Linked DNA regions of Homo sapiens. The protein of the gene in region 1 purifies or fractionates together with the protein of each later gene. This does not show direct contact. Each region holds a gene or a part of one and is shown in the gene's direction. Other genes may lie near its edges.

The links.
Region 2: the proteins of SLC39A5 (region 1) and EFNB1 purify together in Homo sapiens (affinity purification with mass spectrometry; 2 studies listed by BioGRID and IntAct, with this or other methods). This does not show direct contact.
Region 3: the proteins of SLC39A5 (region 1) and GOLPH3 purify together in Homo sapiens (affinity purification with mass spectrometry; 2 studies listed by BioGRID and IntAct, with this or other methods). This does not show direct contact.
Region 4: the proteins of SLC39A5 (region 1) and FAM171A2 purify together in Homo sapiens (affinity purification with mass spectrometry; 3 studies listed by BioGRID and IntAct, with this or other methods). This does not show direct contact.
Region 5: the proteins of SLC39A5 (region 1) and GPR89A purify together in Homo sapiens (affinity purification with mass spectrometry, with the first as the bait; 2 studies listed by BioGRID). This does not show direct contact.
Region 6: the proteins of SLC39A5 (region 1) and SCARF2 purify together in Homo sapiens (affinity purification with mass spectrometry; 2 studies listed by BioGRID and IntAct, with this or other methods). This does not show direct contact.
Region 7: the proteins of SLC39A5 (region 1) and CYSTM1 purify together in Homo sapiens (affinity purification with mass spectrometry; 2 studies listed by BioGRID and IntAct, with this or other methods). This does not show direct contact.

The regions. Positions count from the first base shown.
Region 1 is NC_000012.12:56,235,699-56,238,346, forward strand, and holds the end of SLC39A5 (zinc transporter ZIP5 precursor), read left to right. Parts: coding exon 1-2; intron 3-675; exon of another isoform or gene 676-697; coding exon 698-794; intron 795-883; coding exon 884-1,048; intron 1,049-1,232; coding exon 1,233-1,313; intron 1,314-1,451; coding exon 1,452-1,642; intron 1,643-1,889; coding exon 1,890-2,033; 3' UTR 2,034-2,148; downstream 2,149-2,648. UniProt on the Homo sapiens protein: Uniporter that transports zinc(2+) into polarized cells of enterocytes, pancreatic acinar and endoderm cells across the basolateral membrane and participates, notably, in zinc excretion from the intestine by the uptake of zinc from the blood into the intestine.
Region 2 is NC_000023.11:68,832,021-68,835,520, forward strand, and holds part of EFNB1 (ephrin-B1 precursor), read left to right. Parts: intron 1-3,500. UniProt on the Homo sapiens protein: Cell surface transmembrane ligand for Eph receptors, a family of receptor tyrosine kinases which are crucial for migration, repulsion and adhesion during neuronal, vascular and epithelial development.
Region 3 is NC_000005.10:32,143,320-32,146,819, reverse strand, and holds part of GOLPH3 (Golgi phosphoprotein 3), read left to right. Parts: intron 1-2,939; coding exon 2,940-3,071; intron 3,072-3,500. UniProt on the Homo sapiens protein: Phosphatidylinositol-4-phosphate-binding protein that links Golgi membranes to the cytoskeleton and may participate in the tensile force required for vesicle budding from the Golgi.
Region 4 is NC_000017.11:44,357,354-44,360,853, reverse strand, and holds part of FAM171A2 (protein FAM171A2 precursor), read left to right. Parts: intron 1-721; coding exon 722-949; intron 950-1,182; coding exon 1,183-1,275; intron 1,276-1,748; exon of another isoform or gene 1,749-1,909; intron 1,910-3,500.
Region 5 is NC_000001.11:145,624,988-145,628,487, forward strand, and holds part of GPR89A (Golgi pH regulator A), read left to right. Parts: intron 1-3,500. UniProt on the Homo sapiens protein: Voltage-gated channel that enables the transfer of anions such as iodide, chloride, bromide and fluoride which may function in counter-ion conductance and participates in Golgi acidification.
Region 6 is NC_000022.11:20,435,026-20,438,987, reverse strand, and holds the start of SCARF2 (scavenger receptor class F member 2 isoform 2 precursor), read left to right. Parts: upstream 1-1,162; 5' UTR 1,163-1,233; coding exon 1,234-1,406; intron 1,407-3,962. UniProt on the Homo sapiens protein: Probable adhesion protein, which mediates homophilic and heterophilic interactions. In contrast to SCARF1, it poorly mediates the binding and degradation of acetylated low density lipoprotein (Ac-LDL).
Region 7 is NC_000005.10:140,192,188-140,195,687, forward strand, and holds part of CYSTM1 (cysteine-rich and transmembrane domain-containing protein 1), read left to right. Parts: intron 1-2,258; 5' UTR 2,259-2,278; coding exon 2,279-2,465; intron 2,466-3,500.

The DNA.
Region 1 (2,648 bases):
CAGTGAGTGATACCCTTTTCTCCTCCTTCTGCTGAGACCAGAGTCCCAGTCAAGAACTGGGCCAGGCCGGGCGCGGTGGCTCACGCCTGTAATCCCAGCACTTTGGGAGCCCAAGGCGGGCAGATCACAAGGTTAGGAGTTCGAGTCCAGCCTGACCAACATGGTGAAACCCTGTCTCTACTAAAAATACAAAAATTAGCTGGGCGTGGTGGTGCGTGTCTGTAATCCCAGCTACTCAGGAGGCTGAGGCAGGAGAATCGCTTGACTTGGGAGGTGGAGGTTGCAGCGAGCTAAGATGGCACCACTGCACTCCAGCCCAGGTGACAGAGCGAGACTCCATCTCAAAAACAACAACAACAACAACAAAACTGGGCCAAAAAGCCAAGAGATGAGGAGCAGTGTGTGCTCCTGGATCTCTGACATTTGCCTGGTGTGCAGGACCTATCGGCTAACAGGGAGTGGGTAGGGGCTCCTTAAGCACAGACCCAGGACTTCTGGCCAAATGGCATCCTATTCTGAGCTCAAGTCAACAAGAAACAGAGGGGAGGTGCCAACTTGGGAAGAAGGTAGAGGCCAAAGAACATCCCAGGTGCCAGAGGTGGAACCAGGTGTTCATCTTCCCAGCTTGTGGCCTGGCTTCCCCTTAGTCCCTGGCTCTGCTGCCTCCTCCACCAGGAGGGATGCCCTCCTATTTCAGAGATGCTGCAGGCGAAAACGAAGGAATCTCGAAACACGCAACTTGGATCCGGAGAATGGCAGTGGGATGGCCCTTCAGCCCCTACAGGCAGCTCCAGGTGACTAGAGGAGAAAATTTGAAGAGTAGGTTCCAAGCTCACAGTCCTTACTTGCAGCCACCAACACTGTCCTGTGCTTCTTCCCGCAGAGCCAGGGGCTCAGGGCCAGAGGGAGAAGAACAGCCAGCACCCACCAGCTCTGGCCCCTCCTGGGCACCAAGGCCACAGTCATGGGCACCAGGGTGGCACTGATATCACGTGGATGGTCCTCCTGGGAGATGGTCTACACAACCTCACTGATGGGCTGGCCATAGGTGTGAGGGGTGGGAACGGAGGGAAGCAGGTCCGAGGGGAGGCCAGGGCTCCTAGTTATCAGCTGGGGCTAGGAGAGGGCCGTCAGGAAGATGGGGAGAGGACGGGAGGACCACGGAACACAGGAACCTGCTTCTGAGGAGACTTTTCTTCTGGACTGACAACTTCCGACCCTGCTGGCCCCAGGTGCTGCCTTCTCTGATGGCTTCTCCAGCGGCCTCAGTACCACCTTAGCGGTCTTCTGCCATGAGCTGCCCCACGAACTGGGTAGGAATGGCAGGAGCAGGGTGGGGTGGACTCCAGAAAGGAGATAGCTCCAAGGGGTAGAGCTTGGAGGCTGGTGGGTGGCATGGATGAGGGGCACCCCAGCTTACTCCCTCCCATCCTGTCCTCTGTCTCCAATAGGTGACTTTGCCATGCTGCTCCAGTCAGGGCTGTCCTTTCGGCGGCTGCTGCTGCTGAGCCTCGTGTCTGGAGCCCTGGGATTGGGGGGTGCAGTCCTGGGGGTGGGGCTCAGCCTGGGCCCTGTCCCCCTCACTCCCTGGGTGTTTGGGGTCACTGCTGGGGTCTTCCTCTATGTGGCCCTTGTGGACATGGTGAGAGATGTCGGGTAGAGCAGAGAAATCAAGGGCAGTGGGGAGGCGGGAGTGGAGAGGGAGGTAGCAGTCCCTCCGCCTCTACCATTAGCTCCTGGAAGGGCGTCAGACCATAGGCCCGCAAAAGTCTGAGAAACAAGGGACTAAGGTGTTTGGGTGGGGGCTGCTGATGCTTTCTGACACCATTCCTCTGGAGTTGAGAGGTCAGGGGCAAGGCCAGAATCCTGACATCCTCTTTTTCTTTCAGCTACCAGCCCTGCTTCGTCCTCCGGAGCCCCTGCCTACGCCCCATGTGCTCCTGCAGGGGCTGGGGCTGCTGCTGGGGGGCGGCCTCATGCTTGCCATAACCCTGCTGGAGGAGCGGCTACTGCCCGTGACCACTGAGGGCTGATGGGGCCAGTGGAAAGGGGTCGGGTTGCCCTTCCTTCCCCCCAACCACAGGAATGGAGGCGGGACACAGGGCCAGTAGGAGCAATAGGATTTTAATAAACAGAACCCATCCCAAAGCCATGACTACGACAGTTGTACTTGCACCAAAACAGCATAGAAAACCAGAGTGTGGTGGGAGGACCCGAAGCCGGTTGGGGGAGGATGTGAGTAGGGGCCTGGAGGGTGCAGGGTCATTAATCTGCGGGGAGAACATTGTGCTTTAGCCCAGGGAGGGGAGGGGTGGGGCAAATGCACCGAGGTCCCCACTTTTTCCTGCTGCCCTCGGCACCCTGGGGATGCAGGCATCTGGGCACATCTGCCCCTTATTGCTGCCCACCAGCGTTAAACGCCCCCGATCCCAACACTAGCACCACAGGTGGTTCCGGGGCAGGGAGAGGCAGGAATGGGAAAATTGCTTAGAGAAAGATTCCACTAGAATCCAGTGAATTGTGCTCAGTTCTCTTTACTTCCTACAACCGAGTACATGGGTCACAGGGTGGAGGGTGCAACAGGACATGGAACATGCCCCTCCGTGCCCCCCAACACACACCTGCACACAGGATGGTGGTGTCTGCAG
Region 2 (3,500 bases), on another chromosome or scaffold:
TGTCTACATGTGTTGGCTCGGGGTGGTGGGGGCAAATGGACAGGAAGGAGGCACTGCCCTCAGCTCTCCTTGAGCTTTGGGGGCTGCTTCTGCCACCGCGCCCAACCCTCAGGCTGCCACAGCCTTTCAAATAAACAGTCCCTCTCTGTCTCCCTCCCTCTCTGCCTCCTGCCCGAGTTCTCCTCTCAGGCCCGTGTCAGTTCGCCCTCTCATACCCTCCGCGAGCAGCGCTCACTTCCCCTCTCCAGCTAGGCTCGCCTGCTCTGCCTTGCTCTCACACTCCCTCTCACTCTTAGTCACTCTCTGCCTCTTTTTCTCAAGTCCTTTTGTTTCTCGCACATGCCCGTGCTCTCCCTCTCAGGCTCATTTTCTCTCTTCCTTCCCCTCTTCCTCTCCTGGCTTTTGGTCTCTCTCCTCAGCCCTGTCAGAAGCTGGCAACCCCCCTCCCAAAAAAGAAAATCTCCCAGTGCCTATAAACCCTGCTTAATTGCTTCCTTCTTGGGAAAAAAAAAATCAAAATAAAAGAAGTGGTGGGGCTGGGGGTCCGCTTCCAGGTTCCAAGGTGCGTGCGGCCCGGCCCCAGCCCTGACTGAGAGGGGAAGCGGGAATGGCTGGCCCAAGACTCCCAAGCCTCTTTCCCAAATTGGTGCTGGGGCCTTCTGGGATGCTAGTCCCTGAGTGGCAGGAGCTTCTGCCTCCTTGGCCCCTCCTGTCAGATTTGCCCCATGAGCGCAAGGTGGGGGGATGGGTTTGGTCCTGCTAGAGTTTTTTTTAGGAACCTCTGTGTGTGCGTGTGTGTGTGTGTGTGTGTGTGTGTGTGTCTGAGTTGGGGGGCTGTTATCTAAATGGTCCTAGGCGACCCCTCCCGCAGCCTCTTCCCCTGGGAACTTGGGGCAGCCGGCAGGCCTCACACTTGAGTCCTCAGCCAAGTCCAGCTGCTGCAGTTCAGTCTCTCAGTCCCGTCCTGACCCCTTCCTGCCCCCCACTCAGGTTCCCCCACCTCCAGGGAGTCAGAATGTGCCTGAGATCACATTACAAACATTCCCTACAAGGGGGTGGGGGTGGGGGGGTTCAGCTTGGCATCCAGGACCCTTGACTCCAGCATGGGTGGGGGCAGCTGCAGACCCCAACCCATGCTTGCCTGCTCCAAGCCAAAGTGTTGGCCCCAGCCCCACACAGCTGTTCTAGCTCACAGTCCTGGGGAGGCCAGCTCAGGGGGCCCTTTTCCGGGGTGGTTAGGGACCTGACCTCTTCTACTTTGTGGCTGATTGGCCACAGGTGGGAGCCTGAGAGTGATGGGAATCCAGCAGCTCCTAAAGTCCCCTGTTCCCCTGCCTCCCCTCTCCCACATAGGGCAGCCAGGCAAGGGCAAGAAGGACCTGTGAGGCTGGGGTGGGGACTGAATCAAGGGTTCCCTTTCTTCCCTTGGGCTCTCTGTTGTCTCATCCGCTCAGGTGAATGGGGATGCGTGGGCCCTGGATACTATGGTGCATCACTGTTTTCTGGGGTTAGGGACTAAAGGAGATAGAGTGGGCCAGCCAGGAGGCTGCTAGTTGCCATGGGAACACCAGGTTTGGGGGAGAGTCCACTCTGTGACTATTAGAGGAGCTGAGATACGGGGGTGCTCACCAGCCACATTCTGGGTTCCTTACCCCGCAGACCATAGCAGCCCCTCTTGGGCGTGTTTCACGATCATTGTTTTGGGTCAGGGTGCTAGCAGCCAGGAATGTAAGCTCCTTCAGCTTTTTACTTCTAAATAATGCTGTGTTTGGCATGCTAACTAATAGGCAGGCGGCACCTTGCTACTTACAATGCATTCTCATATATGATCTCATCGAATGCTCCCAACAACCCTGGGAAGTAGGTATTGGTCCCATTTTCCAGATAAGAAGGCATATGCCCGGACAAGGGAAGTGACTTGTCTAAGGCCAGTCAATGACTTGCCTATGGGGGCAGAGCTGTGTTGTGTGCCATTCATTCCTGCTGCCTTGAAATGTAGGAGAGACAGGAATTCAAGGTGGGGTTTGGGAAGAGGCCCTGGCTCCCTGCCCCTGAGTTCCCCTCTTACCTCGCAGGTGTGCAAGCATCTGTCCCTGTGACTCAGGCCCTGTCTGTGTGGGGTGAGCAGTGCTCCAACTTCCTCATTTGACTTTTCTAGGCCTACCTTCCAGGGCTGACTGCTTGGGTGACCTGAACTAAAGGCAGCCAACTCACTGCCTGGCACACTCCCTGCGGAGCTCTGAGTGGCACCTTTGGTTCCTCTCTGAGCTAAGAATCTCTCTTCTCAGGGACCCCACAGAAAGCAGACATCGACATCGAGGAGGGGGGGTATTAAATTCATAATGGACACGAGCCTTAGCCAGGTGGGGCAGAGGGAAGGGCATAGTTCAGTGTAGATGGGGAGGGTGACTTCCTCCAGGACTCTCCTGGCTTCCCTGCCTCTGACAGAGCTGTGTGTGCCAGGACCCAGCTGCTGTTCCTGCCCACCCACGCCTGGGCGGGCACTGCTGGGACATGCCAGGCCTGCTCCTGCCAGCCTCGGGGGCTGGGTGGAGCTGGGGGAGTTAAAGAGGAGCCTTTAATTTGGGGGCTCCCCACCCTAGCTGGGATGAGAACAGACTTGAGCTCTGGCTTGGGGTCTGTCCTCCATTGGTCTTGCCACCCTGGGAGGTGCAGGTGCAGTGGTCGTGGGGTCACTGAATCGAGGTTGAGGCTAGAGGCTTCTACCAGACTTGGGCTTGCATGGCCTAGAACCAGGCTCCCCCTTTGGTCATTCTCTGACCACAAGTTGCTAGAGCCTGAGAGCAGGGTGACAGGGAAAGAAGTATAGACCTGGTGGGATGTGGGCAGCTTTCTGGGCAAGACCCTCCTAGCTGCAAGCTCTCCCTGCCCCCTGTAAATTGTATTCACATGGGTGGAGAAGGGCTTATCCGGAGAAAACAAGGAGGGGGCTGTTGGTTAGTTGGTTTCTGGCCAGTCCAGGGCCTTGGAGGCTACTGTCCCCAACCCCTTCAGGCTTTTCATATCCCAGGATTCTTTGTGGCAGTGATGGCATCGTGGTGCTTCTAAGCTAGGTAGAAAGGCTGAAGGTAGAACTTGGGTTAGGGTAGAGGGGGAAGAGCTGGAATAGCTTAGGCCGCCTCCCCCAAGTCCTTTTACTCCCTGGGGTGGCGCCCTGGGGTCCCAGGGCTATCTGAGGCTGGAGAGGGAAGGCCTCAGGGGTTACCATGGTGACCTGCTTCAGGCTTCCTGCTGAGCCATGTCAATCCCTTTATTTTTCAGAAAAGGGCTTTGTCTGGGGGTGGCCCCAGACAGAAAAGCTTGGCTTGGTCCTAGGGTGGGGGGAAGTAAGGTGGAGGATAAAGAGTTTCACTTCGGGATATCTCTTCCTCCTCTTCCCTTACTCCTACTCCTAATCTGGTAAGAGGGGAGAACTGTAGGGTCCCCCTTTAAAGTATGACTAGTGTTCTACCTAGCTTTGGCCTTCACTCTCACTGGCT
Region 3 (3,500 bases), on another chromosome or scaffold:
TTGGACACTCTGCTTTAGATAATATAATTTTTTATCTGTTTCTCATGTAGAATATATATTATGAGCATTTTCCCATGTTGTAAATGTTTTTAATAACATATAAGGAAAATCTTATACTTCCGGTTATATCCCTGTTATGATCTTTATACAAAATATTTTTATTACATTTCATTTTGGGTTACCAACCTTTTGAGTTCCTTCTTAACAAAAAGCTTCTGGGTAAGTAGGCAGTTGAGAGCAGAACAGTAGCTCTTAACTGGAATGGTGAGAACTCTTCTCAGTGTTGGCAGTTTTAGGGGACTTAATAAACAATACCCTTTTCTACCATTCAAATTGAGCCACTTGAAAGAATAAAGGGAATCAGGCAGATGGAGGTCTGGTAGTGTATGGCCCAGCCTACTTGGGGTGTCTCTGTCCTCTCCCATCCTTATATTTTAGAACATAGGAACTAATTATGACTACAGTCATAAGCTGCTTGATGCTGCCAGTTACTAACCTTCCCCACATATTTTATCTTTTTTTTTTTTTTGAGATAGGGTCTTACTCCTGTCATCCAGGCTGGAGTGCAGTGGCATGATCATGGCTCACTGCAGCCTCAAGTTCCTGAGCTCAGGTGATTCTCCCACCTCAGCCTTCCAAGTAGCTGGGACCACAGACGGGTGCCACCATGCCCGGCTAATTTTTGTATTTTTTGTAGAGATGGGGTTTCACCATGTTGCCCAGGGGTCTGGAATTCCTGGGCTCAAGCAATCTGCTTGCCTCTGCCTCCCGAAGTGCTGGGATTACAGGTGTATGTCACTGCGCCTGGCCACCCTATGGTTAATTTTTGATCCTGCTTTTATGACATGGATTTTAGCAGGAGGGTATCAACATACTGTACTTTTCTGTTGTTTGGTGTGTCTTTGTTGGCTTCATTTATCTTTGGAATATTGCTGACGAGTCCCAGAAGCTGTGGTACAGAACTGTCCGTTCCCATTCATCTACTTTCCCATGTGAATCCAATTCTGTTTAAGCATGTGTCTTTCAGCGATGATGCCTAAAGCCATTCACTAAATTTAGATCTCTGAAGTCTGTTACTAAAGACCCCATTTTGCTAATATCTCTGGGTATGCCATTACTCTAGGAGCAATTGAGATTGAGACATATTTTAGTTCTCTGCTGTCAAATGTAAGCCTCCAGGTACTGTTCAGCTGGAGTTTGCAGGCTGTAGGGCTGTTCACGTCCATTATTGCTTTATGAGGTGTTCTCTGTTGTTTACAGTTTGTAGAGGCTCATTTAGGAACTCTGTCTATATGTCCAGGCCAGTCAAAGCCAGATATCTGTAACTTTAATTTCATGTGGAATTCATTCTCAGGCTTCCTAGGGCTTTAATTTCATGGACACAGAAGCCACGCATTTTACCTAACCTCTATAAAGTACTGGTATTATTAGCCACTTTGCTAAATCTCTGGTAATCTTCATTTGATCAGGCCCCGACCCTAAGTTTAAAGTGACTCCCTAAAATCCAGTCAGTGTCTGCTACTTACACCTCACATTTAAATTGATCTCTTAACACTGATGTTTTTGTTTATCCGCTTGTGCCTCCTTTAAATTGTTATTTTCCCAAAGGTCACATTCTCAGAAGTGGTAGCTTGGTGAGGCGAATTTAACTCCTTGTATCAAAAATGAAGTTTGATGGACCTCAATGGTCAGTCATCTTCTGAAACACAAGCTCACTACTCTGGCCTGACAAAGTGCCAGGATTGACCTTGGAAAAGTGCCAGAGGTGAGGGCCAGGCCTTCCTAATCCTGGGCCCTCCATTCTTTAGAGATTCAGTTGGCCTGTTCTCCTACCAAAATTGTGTTACCCTGTTCTGAGCCTTAATGAGAGTTATTTATAGCTTCTGCTGTCTCATGAGAACTGGGTATCTTAAATTGATAGCTGGCAATCCTGCTGGCAAGATTTGTGGCTTTATAATTTGAACAACCCCAGTTGTTTGCTGTTAAAGTGTCCTGACCTCATCTGGTGATGCCTGCTTGACCAGTATCCCAGATCTCTAGATGTCTATCAACCTCCTTATGTCTGGCCGTTCTTCCACTGTGGATGCTGCCCTTACATTCTCTCTTGGGGCCAATCTGATTGTTATACTGTTTATTATTGAGAATTTTAGGCCTATAGCCATCCATTTGTTTGTGGGCGCATGTGTGTTTTTCTAATATCTTCTTACAAAATTAACAGTGTGTGTATTTAAGAGACAATGTCGCACTGTTTTGCCCAGGCTGCAGTGTGTTGGTGTAATTATTGCTCACTGTAGCCTTGAACTCTTGGACACAGTGGTCCTCCTGCCTTAGCTTCCTGGGTAGCTGCGACTACAGGTGTGCAGCACCACACCTAGCTAATTAATTTTTTTTGGTAGAAACAGGATCTCACTATGTTGTCCAGTCTGGTCTCAAACTCCTGGGCTCAAGCCATCGTCTTGGCTCAGCCTCCCAAAGTGCTCGGATTAACCTTGTGGTTTTATCCTAAACAGCAATAAATGAATGGTATTCTAATTCTCTGTGAAGCTAACTTGGCTAGGTTGTCTTTGCCTGAGCTTCTTAACTTGTCCACATAAATAAATCACTATAATCTGGGGTTAACTGAGTATTCCTTGGAGTTTGCAGGGTTCTGAAAGAACCTAATAAACACACAGCTTGGTGAAATGTGAGTTATGTTTCTAAACTTATGACCTCTAAAGTTATTTGTTGTTTGTATGTAAGAATAAGTGGTGGAAAGATAAGCCCCCGAAAATTCTCGATTAGTAATTTATGTTAATTGTATTTTTTCAGTATATTATTATAGAAAGACAGGAAAGGTAAAAGGCACCAAATATGACTTTGGCTGATAATATTTCTGTTTTTTACTCTGAATTCAAGGTAAATTAGCTATTTTGTTTTATTTCTTCTTCTTTTTTTAATAGGGTTACACATCATTTTGGAATGACTGTATATCATCTGGATTACGTGGCTGTATGTTAATTGAATTAGCATTGAGAGGAAGGTTACAACTAGAGGCTTGTGGAATGAGACGTAAAAGTCTATTAACAAGAAAGGTAAGAGGAGTGCTGAGTAACATTCTTTTTAAAGAGGTTGTACTGCTTAAAATGTATGTTTTTACTAGTAGCCTTCAAAAATTAAAGTGGAAGTTGATATTAAAGTTGTCTTTCTTCAATTGTATTTCCATATCTTTTTTGCATTCTTGGTTTCCTGGTTCTTTCACCTACAATGAGTAATGTAATTGATTGTTAAGGTAACCGGCCACTGGATCTTACAAATTCAGAAAGATTCTAGACTTCATTTGCAGCTTTTATTTATTTATTTATTTTTAATTTTATTTTATTATTATTATTTTTTATTGATCATTCTTGGGTGTTTCTCGCAGAGGGGGATTTGGCAGGGTCACAGGACAATAGTGGAGGGAAGGTCAGCAGATAAACAAGTGAACAAAGGTCTCTGGTTTTCCTAGGCAGAGGACCCTGCGG
Region 4 (3,500 bases), on another chromosome or scaffold:
AGGGAAACAGGCTTGTGCAAAGGATTCTGGGAAAAGGATGAATGATGGGAATGACCAGTTTCCTAGTGTCCCCTGTCAATTTTTTCCCAAGACCCCAAACTCTGCCCTAGCCTCCATCCTCCCTTTCAAACTGCTGAATCTTGACCCTTCTCCTCTCCGCCTGCGGACCCAGCTTTACTTAGCCTTTCTCAGCCCTCCTGTCCTTCTCCTCTCCCCAGGCCCGGGGTTAAGAATGTCGCTTCTAGAGGCAGACTGCCAGGTCTGGATCCCAGATCTCCACTTAGCTGTAGTCCAAGTATCTAAACTCTCTAAGCCTCAGTTTCCTTATCTGTAAAATGGACTAAGAGCATATATTATCAAATCCAATACACCACTGACTGTAAGATGCACCATGATTTCAGGTACCAGTAAGAAAGGAAGAAATGCTGCCAGTTATAACGATGGCATCATCAATCATAGGCATAGCCCGAGTTTAGAATTGTGAAAATGTGACACAGCGCATGTGTTAGACGATGAAATACAGGAATAGTCCCACCTCCGGCATGGGCTGATAGGAGGTTTCAGTGAGTGCTCTGTGAATGCTGGGTCTTAAATCATGCCTTCTCTAGCCTCAGCCCAAAAGACTCTCTCAAACACAGCTCCTTCCTCTGATCTTGGGGCTCCCCCCAGTTCTCTTTCCCCCTCCCTCGTCCTCACTCCCTTTGCCCCATCTTGCCCACAGAGATCCTGATCAAGGTGCAGGTGTATGTGAGCGGGGAGCTGGTGCCCCTGGCCCGGGCCTCAGTGGATGTGTTTGGGAACCGGACTCTGCTGGCAGCTGGCACCACAGACTCAGAGGGTGTGGCCACCCTGCCCCTCAGTTATCGCTTGGGCACCTGGGTGCTGGTCACTGCTGCCCGCCCTGGCTTCCTCACCAACTCTGTGCCCTGGCGTGTTGACAAGCTGCCCTGTGAGTGCAGGGGCAGGTGGAGGGGGGGGACAGCAGCTGACCCTCCATCAGCCCCTTCCCAAAATAGTCTCCTTGGGGGTGGAGGGGGAGGCTTTCCAGCAGCTGCTGCCTGGGCTGGGGTACACAGAGGGGGCTGAGGGAGGGTGAAGCCTCTGGGACTCAGATGGAGGGGGTGCCTGGCTGGGGGGTAGGGGGTGGGTTTTCCTGGAGCTGACCGGCCATCCCTCCCGCAGTGTATGCGTCTGTCAGCCTCTACCTGCTCCCTGAGCGGCCGGCCACGCTCATCCTCTATGAGGACCTGGTGCACATTCTCCTAGGCTCTCCCGGTAAGGCTCCCCCTCACCCACGCCAACTCTTCTTCCTTCCCCTGACCTAGGTGTAGAGACCTCCACTGTCCTATATTAGCTGGGTGTCCTTGGGCAAGTCACTTCACCTCTCTGAGCCATAATTTGCTCATTTGTAAGACGTGGAAGGTTAGTGCCTACATCATCAAATTGGAGTAAGAAATCACAAAGTGAAAAAACACAGTACAGAAGGTGTTCAATAAATGTTTACAGTTATCGGGGCTTCTCGTGGTTTCTATTCTCCATCTATTCCTACCTTCCCTGCCACCTTTATCTTCAATGGGTCTACACAGATTTGTTGTGCACCTGCTGGATGCACAGGTGCACAGGAAGTGCAAGGCCCAGAGCAAGCCTGCAGTTCCTGGTCTACCCCCAGGCTTTTGGTCTCGCTCAGCTAGTACTTACTTCAACTCCTAGGCTGTGCCAGGCATTGTGGCTGGTGCTGGGAACCACGGTGAGGAAGAAGACCCGCTCTTTGCCTTTGGACGTTCACAGACAAGTAGGAAGACAGATCATTGCAAGCCCTGAAATAGTTCCAGAGCAGGCAGGGCAGTGGAGTGGAGGGCAGCTGCTTTCAGTGCTGAGACGGCCCTAACCTGCGAGGGGACCTGGCTGGGTGAGAGCTTGTCGAACGGAGCAGTCAGCCCTCGACTCAGGAGTGAAGGGGAAGCAGAGGCACCTCCACTGGAGAGGAAGGCCAGGGGGAGACATCAGGTGGAGGGTAGTAGAGGACAGTGAGGGTTTGGGGGCTCCATTCCGCTTAGAGGGCCATGGTGGGTTTCGGAGTTTGAGGAACCCCATCCCAGTTTGTAGTCTCAGCTTGAGCCCTTGTCATGGAGCTAGTTTTTGTTGTTGTTGTTGTTGGGTTTTTTTTTGAGATGGAGTATTGCTCTGTTGCCCAGGCTGAAGTGGTATAACCTCGGCTCACTGCAACCTTTGCTTTCTGGGTTCAAGGGATTCTCCTGCCTTAGTCTCCTGAGTAGCTGGGATTACAGGCACCCATCACCACGCCAGACTAATTTTTGTATTTTTAGTAGAGACGGTTTTGCCATGTTGGCCAGGCTAGTCTCGAACTCCTGACCTCAGGTGATCCACCCGCCTCTGCCTCTCAAAGTGCTGGGATTACAGGCGCGAGTCACTTCACCCGGCCTCACCAAGCTGCTCTTGTTTGCTCACCTTCGTCACTCTGATCCCAAGCTTCTAAGTGCCCCTGCAGGTTTCTAAAATACCAGTGGACCCTTTGTGGCCCCCTAGCTTGAAGCCCCTGCATGGCGCCTACTGCTTTCAGTACCAAGCCCAGGTGCCATCTCAGAGCTGACTGCACCCTCCAGAGCCCGGGCCGCCCTCTGCCCCACGCCTCTGGGCCTTTCTCATGCCAGGCCTCCTGGATGTCCTTTCCCTCTTTCTTTCCTGGCTGAGTCTTCCACATCCTCCAAGACTCCACAGGGCCTCCCCTGAGCTGAGTGAGACCAGCTCCCCTAGTCCTCTGCATCCCTCTATTTGGATAGCAAGGCAGGAGGAATGGCATGGCAGAGGATGGGCCTGGAGCCCGATGGCCTGGGCTTCTATCCGGGCTCGAGGATTGTGACCTCGTGCAAGTTACTGAACCCCTGTGCCTCCATTTCTGCACCTCTAAAATGAGGTTGATAATAGATACCTAGCTCAGGGGCTATTTTCCTAATTGCAGGGGTTAATATAGGTAACCTGCTTAGAACAGTGCCCAGCATAGCTTAAAGATTAATAAATGTTAGCTGTGACCATATTGTATTGGAATTGTTTGTATGTCTGTCCCCTCCACCCCAACACACACACACACACACACACACACACGACCTAAACTGTCTAATGCAGTAGCCACTAGCTACATATTAAATTGAAGTAAATTAAATTAAAAATTCATTAATTTTTTTTTTTGAGATGGATTCTCACTCTGTTGCCCAGGCTGGAGTACAATGGCATGATCTTGGCTCACTGCAACCTCTGCTGCCTGGGTTCAAGCGATTCTCCTGCCTCAGCCTCCCGAGTAGCTGGGATTACAGGCGCCTGCCACCGCACCTGGCTAATTTTTGTAGTTTTAGTAGAGATGGGGTTTCACCATCTTGGCCAGGCTGGTCTTGAACTCCTGACCTCGTGATCCACCTGCCTTGGAATCCCAAAGTGCTGGGATTACAGGCGTGAGCCACCGCGCTCGGCCTTTTTTTTTTTTT
Region 5 (3,500 bases), on another chromosome or scaffold:
TGTTGAATGAGCCAGTGTCTATTATAGAATCTGCCATACCTCCCACACACCCTTCCATGTATACTGATTGCCTATAGCAGGAATTTCGGGAGAGAGGTTATGAGACTCTCCTGCAGTAAGATCAGAGGAGATATGCAGTTTTGAAAAGCATATGCAATACCATAAATAGTTGTGTATTTTTAAAATAAGAATAACTTTCAAAATTTCAAATAACGTTAAAGGCCGGAAAACTTAACATAACACCAGCCTGCCAAAAGCATTCAAACTCTTAGGTGGCGTATGAGACCTTTCATGACCTGGCTGCTGCTCTCTATACATGTTGCATTCTCCAGTCCTGTGAAATTATTTCAAGTTTCTTTTTTTTTTTCTTTTTGAGACAGGTCTCACTCTCACCCAGGCTGGAGTGCAGTGGCATGATCTTGGCTCACTGCAACCTCCGACTCCCAGGCTCAAGTGATCCTCCTACCTCAGCCTCCTGAGTAACGGGGACTATGGGCGCATGCCACCATACCCGGCTAATTTTGGTATTTTTTCATAGAGATGGGGTTTCTCCACGTTGCTCAGGATGGTCTCGAACTCCTGAGCTCAGGGGATCAACCCACCTCAGCTTCCCAAAGTGCTGGGATTACAAGTATGAGCCACCACACCCAGCCTCAAGTTTCTAGAGCTGTTCTATCAGCCTGGACAATCCTTCACCAACCCTGTCTACCTAGAAAATGCCTATTTATCCTTTCTAGATTCAACTCTTGTCAATTCCTTTAGGAAGATTTTCCTGGCCATCATTAGGAGATATTAATTGCTACCATCTCAAGGTATCTATATCATCTATAAAACTTAAAATTTCATGTTTCCTTTTCTAACTTCCTCATCAACCTATGGGCTCCCTGAGGTCAGAAAACTCCATGTTATTTGTCTTTGTATCCCCAGTGCCTAGTGTGGAAACTGACACATAACAAGTGTTTAATACGTGTTCTTTGAATCAGTGGATGGAAGAAAATTGAGTCTCTCCAAAGTGGTAGATGAGTTTACTACTTTAACACTCTGGATAGGAATTTAGGAAATGCTAATGTGATCAGCATGCCTATGTCAATGGTCAACAAAGGGAACGACTTGCACTAAAGAGTCCTGGTAGTATAGTTCTCATATAAACCTATTTCAAAGAAACCCACAGACAGACACATTTATCTGTGACGGTAGAAGTCAGAGAGAAGAGTTAGAAAAGGCCCCCAGGGCTGCTGACAGGGCAAATACAGTCTCACATGCACTACAAAGACCCGACTCTGACACCTTTCTCCAGCTTTCTCCTGTGTGCATTCAGCTCACATGACCAGTGCAGCCAGGCCGCACCAGAGGGAAGATGAAGGCCATTGTATCTATTGTCCTTTCATCCACCCCTTTTTCTAAATTCTATGGGATTACCCTGAAAAGGACACTGAGGGAGAAAGCTAGGGAGATAGTTTCAGTTTTATTCTTTCCATTGTACTCCAATAGGCATTACAGTTTTATGCCTGAATGTTCAGGTATCTTAATTTATTTAACCCTTTAAGATAAGTAAGGAGGAAGAAAAGTTTAGGTAGTAGCTGAGAAGCAACCAGCCTTACACTGCCTTCTTAGAGCTTTCCCAGGACTGTCCCAACAACCAGTATGGTTGTTTATTGCTGTGGTGACCACAAAAAAATGGGCTGGGCAGGTTGGCTCACCCCTATAATCCCAGCACTTTGGGAGGCCAAGGCAGGGATATCACTTGAGGCCAGGAGTTAGAGACCAGCCTGGCCAACATGGCAAAACCCCATCTGTACTAAAAATAGAAAAATTAGCCAGGCATGGTGGTGCATGCCTGTAATCCCAGCTACTCCCCGGAGGCCGGAGACACAAGAATTGCTTAAACCCAGGAGGCTGAGGTTGCAGTGAGCCGAGATCGTGCCACTCCCCTCCAGCCTGGGCGACAGAGCGAGACTCTACAAAAAAAAAAAAAAAGATAAGACCAATCCTTATGTAAAATGAAAAAAAGATAATCTGTAAAAGTACTTCTTGTGCGGTGTCTGAACCAACCTTGGAATGTCCTTAGTGGGAAAGAGTAAGAGAGATTACAAAAGACTGTAAGGAATCTGTGTGAGCAGGTGGCAAAGGTGAGATGATCTTCTGCTAGTCTCCTTATTCATCTGACTTTCCATGTATTAACTGCTAAATGGGGATAATGATGACTGACTCCTACTTCATAGAAATGCTGAGATTAAGTAAATAGTATCTACAAAGTACTTTAAACCAGAAAAAGATATGTAATAAAAGGACAAAGACACCATGTTAAAAGGAATAAAGGTAGAGGGGGAATTTTTTCAGTTTTTCAAATTTAATAGCCCATATTAATCTCTTGGATTTTTTATGTTACTGAGTGATATTATAGTCAACAAACATTTGTTGAACACCTCATATGTGCCAAGCAGTAAGGAAAACAAAGATCAATAAGAAATGATGTCTTCTTGTAAAGGGGTTGCAAATTCAAGAGGTATACGGCAAGTAGAATAACAGAATTTAGGTGAGGATTTATTCGTTCATTCAGCATTACACAAATATTTATTGAGCATCCACTTTATATAAATTAAGCACTGGAAATAAACCACAAACGAAACAAACTTGGTTTCTGCCCCCCTGAAATTGATAGTCTTGTGGGTGGAACTAGACAATAAAGAGGTAAATATATAAATAAATAATTGCCAATTGTGATCATTGTCATCAAGGAGTGAACAGGTTGCTGTGATAGAGAAAAATGCCGATAATGTAGTGCAAACAGTTAGATCCACCCTTTCTGAGACAGGGATATTTAAGCTGAGATTTAAAGGACAAGACCAAAGGAAGACCCAGCAAGAAGGCACAGGAGACATCATGTAAAGCCCTGAGGCAGAAAGACCTTGGTGTATTCAAGGAAAGGCAAGAGATAGAATGGAAAGTAATCGTATAGTGTATAGATTTTATTGTTAGGGTGATTATGTCATTTTCTAAGACAGGTAATGCAGAGGAAGGAACAAGTTGAGGGGAAAGATAATTTTAGTTTGGTATATGCTGAATTTGAGTTACTTATGCATATCCAGGTGATGTTAAATAAGCAATTGGATGTACAAATCAGGAGCTTAGGGAAAAGGTGTACATGTATCAGTCCTCATAGAGATGACTCCAGGAATCTAAACAACTAGAAATCATCAACTAAATGCCATTAGGTGAAGCTGGGGAAATTGGTGAGATCACCTAAGCAAAAAATGTGTATACTGAAATGAAAGTGAGAACTCTGGTCCAGACAGAGCAAGAAGTGACCAAGAAAAAGCAATTAGAGAAGTAAAAGGGAAAACCTAGGGAAATGGTGTTGTGGAAGCCAAGAAGATAAAATAATTTTAAACAAAAATGATTCAATGTCATAAAAGAGCCAATGAAACAAGGATTGGAAAATGTTGAATTTTGCAACCAGGGGAAAACTTATTACCATAGTGTCGTAGTGGTTAAAGCCC
Region 6 (3,962 bases), on another chromosome or scaffold:
ACAGAGTCTGCCTGCCCTCCCTCAGTGAGCCTGTGGGCCGCATGTGGCCTGCTCCCCAAAGAACGGAGGTGCCCGCTCCCTGCTTAGGCCTTCTGCCAGCTCTCAAGTCCCCAAAAGACAAACATCCTCACTAGGACCTGGCTACACACGGGACATTTGTGCTCCCTGCCCAACTTCCAGAGTCGGTCTGCCCCAGTTGCCCCCCGGGGACCCGCACCCTGCTGCCTCCCAGTCCAAGTCCAGCTTCCCCGCTGGCTCCCTAGGGCCTGTCCCTCTGTCTTGCTCCCTTCCCACACCTTCCTTCTGCTCTGTGCTGTTACCCACCTTACCTGATGCAGGAGTTCCCACTCTCTAGCCCCAGCCTCTCCTGGAAATCCGACAGCCAGCAGAATCCACCGCCCAGGCTCCCCCAGCCCCCTTCACTCCTCAACTAGGACTGCAGGGTTTCCATCCCGGGGGTCTCCTTCTGTCTTTACCTCTACTTCCTACCGCAGTCCACAGCCTGGCCATTCTACTTCCTCTGTATCTCTCCCATCCGTCCCTACGGAGACCCCTTCCCCCAGGCCTCTGGTCCGGACCGAGTCTACCACAGGCCTCAAGCATCCTGCTCGGTCCGCCCCTTGCGAGCTCTGAGTGCGCAGGAGTGCGCAGGGGGAGCTGACCGCACACCCCAGCACTACAAGGACTTCGCGGTGGGGTGCTGTGGAGTTGGCTTTCGGCCTCGACCTGGGCTGTCTGCGGGCCCCACTCCCTTGGCCGGTTCCGAGGCGCTGGGAGCGGGGGTGGGCTTGCGGAGTCGCGTCCGTGTCCCCGATCCGCCTTCCCGTCCCGGGCCTGGCCTACGCAGTGGGCGCGCAGGGGCGGCTGCTTCGGTAGATGTCTAGGGAGCGGAGGGAAAGGCGCGGGAACCGGGGATTCCTCGGGCGGACCCTCCCTCCACCAGCGCTCGGCGGGCCTCCTCCAAGTTCGCCCCCAAGTTTGCGAGCGGCCAAATGGGGGCGGGGGCTGCGCGGAGGGGCGGTGGCTAGGCCGGAGGGTGGGGTCTGGAGCGCGGGGCGGGCGCTGCCGCCTGGCCGGCCGCGGCTGGCCCGGGATCAGGGAGCCGATGTGGAATTTCCTGCCCGGCTCGGCGCCCCTCCTGCCGCCCCCCGCCCGGCCTCGCACTCCGCTTCCGGCCGCTCTCGCTGCGGCCGCACCCGCGCCCGTGCCCGCCCCGCGCCTGCCCCGCGCCTCATGGAGGGCGCAGGGCCCCGGGGGGCCGGGCCGGCGCGGCGCCGGGGAGCCGGGGGGCCGCCGTCACCGCTGCTGCCGTCGCTGCTGCTGCTGCTGCTGCTCTGGATGCTGCCGGACACCGTGGCGCCTCAGGAACTGAACCCTCGCGGCCGCAACGTGTGCCGTGCTCCCGGGTAGGAGCCGGCCTGGCTGGGGGAGGGGGCGAGAGGGACGCTCTGGGCAGTGGTGTGGCGGCGCCGGGCATTGGGAGGGGGCTACCGGAACCTTCCTACGCCAAGTGTGGGCCCCTTCGGCTCCCTAGCCAGCGCGGCTCCGTTCCAGGCCCAGCCTCGGCCATGGGCCACGACAGTGCATCCCAGGGAACCCTGGACGAGAAGTCACCTGAGGGGAGGATGGAGTGCCGTGGGCACCCAGGGGATGACACGCGTTGTCCGGGATATCAGGAAAGACCTGGAAAAAGGGACCCTTGACCGAGTTGTGAAGTCCACGGGGAAAAGCTGGGGAAGGGCATTCAAGCCAAAGGAACTGCATGTGCTAAAGCCCCGCACTAGTCCGACTGGAGCCGGGAGTGGGAGTGAGGAGGAAGGTCAGGGGAGGAGGAGCGGTGCTAGCCGGGGAGGTCCTGGAGCAAGCCAGACTTGGAAAGACAGATTCGCGTCTTAGAGCGGGCGCGGGTGGGAGGGTGGTGACCCAGGCGAGCGTCGAGGAGCCGGCGCTCGAAGTGGACCAGAAGCGGGAGGCGGAAGGACTATGACAGGCACAGGGGACCGGAGGATGTGGGAACCCTGGCGACAACCAGGTGGGGATTCTGGGTGCAAGAAGGGGCCGCGCAAATGTGGGGCGCCGGCTGGGGAAGCCAGTGTGGGACAGGCAGGCGACAGGCCCGGCCGGTGGGGGGGCGAGTCCGGGAGTTTGCACGGAGGGCAGAGAGGTGAGCCCCGGACGCCAGGAGTTAGGAGCTGGGGTCGGGGGAGCCGGTGGGCTGGCCAAAGGCCACAAGGTCAAGGGCATCTCCACGCAGGGGTGAGGAGCGGGCGTGTGGGGGCGCCTTGGCGCGGATTGGAGACGCCGCACGGGCTGGCAGCCGCAGAGGCGGCCGCCGGGCTCCGAGCTGGGTCGCGTCGGGGCGCCTGAGCCACGGACCCGGGGCAAGCCGAGTCCAGGGGCTCGGCGCCAGAGACAAGGGGCTGCGAGGGGGCAGCGCGGGGTTTCCGAACTCTGGTCCGGAGGCGCGCAGACCCCTCCCCGCTGCGAGCCCCGCCTCCGGGGCGGGGGCCGGCCTGGCCCGCCATCTGCTTCGCATCGATGCCGCCGCCGCGGACTCCCGGGCCTCCCCGGCCCCAGGAATGCAGCGGCGGCGGCGGGCGGGGCGGTGCCTGGAGAGGGGGAGGGCGCGATCGCCGTGGTCTCTGTCTACTCACTCCAGCCCTCTTTCCCAGACAGGCCCGGGACCAGGAATGGGGGTCCGGTGCCAGGCTCTAGCTGTCCGGAGCCTGAGAGCCCTTTGCTCCCGCTCCCCTGGTCTGCAGACCTCCCAGGAGGCGCCTGCTCCAGGAACCGAGCCTGGGTTTGGGTTCCCATCCTGGTGCCACCCTACCCAGCTGTGTGGACCTGGGCAAGTCATTTGACCTCTCTGGGCCTGTCTCCACCTCTGTAAAATGGGATAGTGATCACAACCCCCTCATGGGGCTAAGTGGAGATCGCTGTGGTCATGAGTGGCAAGGGTCGATGGGAAGGACAGCCACTCTGGGCACTGCCCACCTGGGGTCTGGGTCATGTCTTTGTTGTCCTCCCACATCTTGCAAGGCTTCCATCAGCCCTTCCCTTTCCTGGGAGGCAGGAGGATGGGGAGAGGAGAGTGCAAAGCCAGTAAAATCCTATGCACCTACACTGTGCCAGGCCTGTATTGGTGTAGGGAAGCTGCAGTGGAGACCCTGACCCTGTGGCAGAGGAGACACAGTCCAGAAAAGCAAGTGTGTCTAGACATCTAGCAAGAGCTGGGAGGTGTTGGGTTGGGGAGTGCTGTTTCCTTTAGGGTGTTCTGAGGAGAACGGCTGAGAAGGTGGTGAGTGAGCACAGGCCTGCAGAAGAGCACGGAGGCCCTGTGGGTGTCTGGGGCAAGGTTCCCAAGGCAGAGGGCCTGTGGAAGTACAGGAAGGATCCAGGAGGCTGGGCAGAGTCCAGGAGGGGCTGGCGGAGGAGCTGCCAGAGAGTGAGGGTGGGCAGGCCACCGTGGGCTGCCACTGCTCAGAAGACTTGGGCTTTTCTTCTGAGGGCCATGGGACCCCCTGGGGGCTTTGTACAGAGAAAGGGTGGGATCTGACCAGGATTGGCTGCCAGGTGGCAAACACTTCGCACCCTGGGGGGCAGGGGGTGGAAGCTGGGGCCAGTTACAAAAAGCCAGGGAGATGGAGGGTGGCTCTCACAAGGCTGGGATAGGGAAGGAGGAAGTGATCCCATTTTAGATATCGTTTAGAAGCTAGAGCTCAGCGTCTTTTTTCTCAATGGATCTGGTGTAGACAAGAAAGAAGAGTCAGAGATGCTTCTCCAGGTCTCAGCTTCCCAGCCTGAAAGGACAGGCAGGGTTATCTGAGGCAGGGAAGACTCAGGGTGCAAGGAGGTCAAGAGTTCAGGTTTGGGCTGGTTGGGCATGAGGCCCATGAGGTCTCCTTCTGGTGACATCATCTATTGGGCAGTTGGATTTGCAAGTCTAGCATTGATGGGGAGAG
Region 7 (3,500 bases), on another chromosome or scaffold:
ATCAGCACCTCCTTCTACTAGGTTTAAGCGCCTACTCCTACCCAGCAGTCTGTTTACCACATTTTCTAAAAATCATTTTCCTTATGTTTGTTTCAGCCAGTTGCACAAGGGTAGGGTTTGAGGCATATTGATCTCTATACCCCACTACTTAGCCCAGTGTCAAGAAAGCACTTAATAAATGTATGTTTGTGAATGTCACCCAGAAGGGTTCATTACCTTACCTTACCATTGGTTTCCAGGACTGGAAATTCGATAGAGGTAGTTTAGGTTAGGCCAGGCTTTAGTCTTTGATTTAGGAGCTGTTATAAAGTCATCTGGAATCCCATTTCTTTCCTTTTTTCTGCTCTGCCTTTCTGAATGGCCCACTTAATCTTAAAACTGGCTCCTTCTCAGGGCTGCAGATTGGCTGTCAGCAATTTTGTAGGCCAATCTTTCCTAGACTTTGTGTATACCTTTGTACAGGGGAAGGGAAGGTTCGGTGGGAGTGTGTTAAGAGAGTCTGAGCTTTTTACTGATTGAACCACTTCAGAACCAGTCCCAGTGGCCAGGGAGTGCCATTTGCATCTGGGTAAAGTCCTGAATTCCTTGAATCAATCATGATAAAAAAGTGGAGAGAGTGACCCCGATTGGCTTAGATAGACTGGGTTCACCCTGGAGCTGGATGGGATGAGCTTTCCCTGAAGCACATGAACTACAGGAAGAATGAGCAGAGATCTACCTGGAAACCTGACTCCTGTTAGGAAGGGAGAATATGGATGTTGTGTGGGCAACCATCAAAGTCCACTGCTACTGTAATCCAGATTTTCTAGGGAACCTAGACTATTTATAACTATTCTGTCCTTTATATAATAAAGTCACTTAGGAATTTGTTGATTGCCTGTTATGGAAAAGAATTAATAGTGAAATTATTACATTTTGAATCTGAGACTCTTCCCTACTATTTGGTTGGGGATAGAAGACACTCAAATAGGTAAAAAGTTAACTATTGATGTAAGATATGGGTAACAGTACAAGGCAGCAGTATGACAGATGATATGTTAAGTGAGTCATCCTTAGAGTTTATACTTTGCATTCCCCAGTAATTGTTTGTTTGTTTGTTTGTTTGTTTGTTTTTGAGACGGAGTCTCACTTTGTTGCCCAGGCTGGAGTGCAGTGGCACGATCTCAGCTCATTGCAACCTCTACCTCCCAAGTTCAAGCGATTCTCCTGCCTCAGCCTCCTGAGTAGCGGGACTACAAGCACATGCCACCATGCCCGGCTAATTTTTTGTATTTTTAGTAGAGACGGGGTTTCACCATGTTAGCCAGGATGGTCTCAATCTCAACGTGATCCGCCCGCCTCGGCCTCCCAAAGTGCTGGGATTACAGGCATGAGCCACCACACCTGGCCATTTGTTTGTTTTTAATCTGAAAGTCACCGTGCCAGGCACTGTGGAACTTAAAGAGATAATAGAAACAAGACGCTGGCCCTGAAAACTTCAAGCCCAATCAAGAGAATGATTAACAGGCTTGGGGGCTGGGAAGCGTGGCTTCCCTCACAGAAGCAAACCATGGAGGACAGGGTCCTGTAAACACAAATAAATGTTCCTGGTGAGCCCTCCAGAGTCTCAGGGGCCTGGATGGGCAGAGGAGACGCTTGGCATTCTCTATAAACAGCGCTGTCCAACTGCTCAGAGCAGCGGGTCTGGGGAGAACAACCAGATCACCCCAATCCCCAGAGCAATGGTGATGGTTACAAACTTTGGTTGGTCATTGCTGCCAGTGCTGCTCGTTAGAAGGCCCCACTGTGGCCCAGCCCTGTTGATTGGAGGGTTTCTAGTAGTGGATCAGCGTCCACTGATGAGACTCATAGTGCTGTTAGAACACTTTCTTAAAGCTATCCAATCACATTTATGGACACTTCAGAGGAATTAAAAAACAAAATATCTTGCTATTCATTTAACACATTTATTTAGGGGACTGCCTTGTACCAGGCACTCTGCAGTGCTCTAGGGACATGGTGGTGATCCAAAACTTACTTGATATCTACTGTCACAGCCTACAGTCTAGTGGAGGAAATAGACAAAAGGCAAATAAATATATAAGATAATTGCCAATTATAGTGATGGTGAGAAGGAAACAAAATGGGCAGAGCTAGAGATTTGCACAAGGCTTGATACACCTTGAAGGTATTTTGTAAATGATCTTATGGGTTAGGATTTTATTCCTGATGATTTCCACAGTTAAATGCAAATAATTTTCATTCTTTTTGTCTCTTAGGTGCACTTTACAGGTCCCCGATGAACCAAGAGAACCCTCCACCATATCCAGGCCCTGGTCCAACGGCCCCATACCCACCTTATCCACCACAACCAATGGGTCCAGGACCTATGGGGGGACCCTACCCACCTCCTCAAGGGTACCCCTACCAAGGATACCCACAGTACGGCTGGCAGGGTGGACCTCAGGAGCCTCCTAAAACCACAGGTGTGTGTCTCTGAATATGTGGGTGTGCAGTCCCGTGTCACTAAAGGAAATGTTTGCATGTTTTCTTTGGCAGAGAAGAAATTCTTTCCAGCCTTTGCAACTTGTGCTTGATGTCCCCAAAGCTTGATGATGGCTTAGGGTGGATTCTCACTCCTGAGAAGAGGCCCAAGTCAGCTCTGCCTGCTACATTCACACCTCTTGTCCCCTCTGGGGCTGATGACTTCCTGGCCAACGTGTTTTCTGAGGGCTACCCTCTAGAGCACTTGGGGGTGGGGAAGGAATTAGCAGTTGAGTCTTTGCTCTGTAGCCAGCTTTGTATTTTAGGTTTAGTAATTAGCCTCTTGAGTTTATTTTATCTGTCAGCTTGTTGACCCTCAAGTCATCCTCTTGCCCCTGCTACTGGGGTTTTTCTTTTTTTTCTTACTAAATGTTTTCATAATTCTATTTAACCTGCCAGTTGAGTTTTCAGGAGGCTCTTGAGTCCTTCTTGTGTGCTATAGAACAGTGTTACTCAAAGTTCAGTCTGTAGACAAATGCCAGTCAATGAACAGTGAACAGTTATGGACTATATTATATGTACAGAAAGTGAGAGTAAACATTTAGAAACTTTTAGAGCAATTTGGTTTTGCTGTGACATCCAAGTATGTAATCTTGCATTTTACAGAAAGTATCAGTCTGAAAGATTAAAAGTAAAACATCTTGAGGAGCACTGTGCTAGATGTCTTGGTCACTATTTTGTAGCCCTTTGGTTGGCAGAATAGCTGCTCTCTTAATTAGCCCTTTCAGCTTTTTTTTTTTTTTTTTTTTGAGACGGAGTCTCACTCTGTTGCCCAGGCTGAAGTGCAGTGGCGCGATCTCGGCTCACTGCAAGCTCCGCCTCCTGGGTTCACGCCGTTCTCCTGCCTCAGCCTCCTGAGTAACTAGGACTACAGGCGCCTGCCACCACGCCCGGCTAATTTTTTGTATTTTTAGCAGAGACTGTGTTAGCCAGGATGGTCTCAATCTCCTGACCTCGTGATCCGCCCCCCTTGGCCT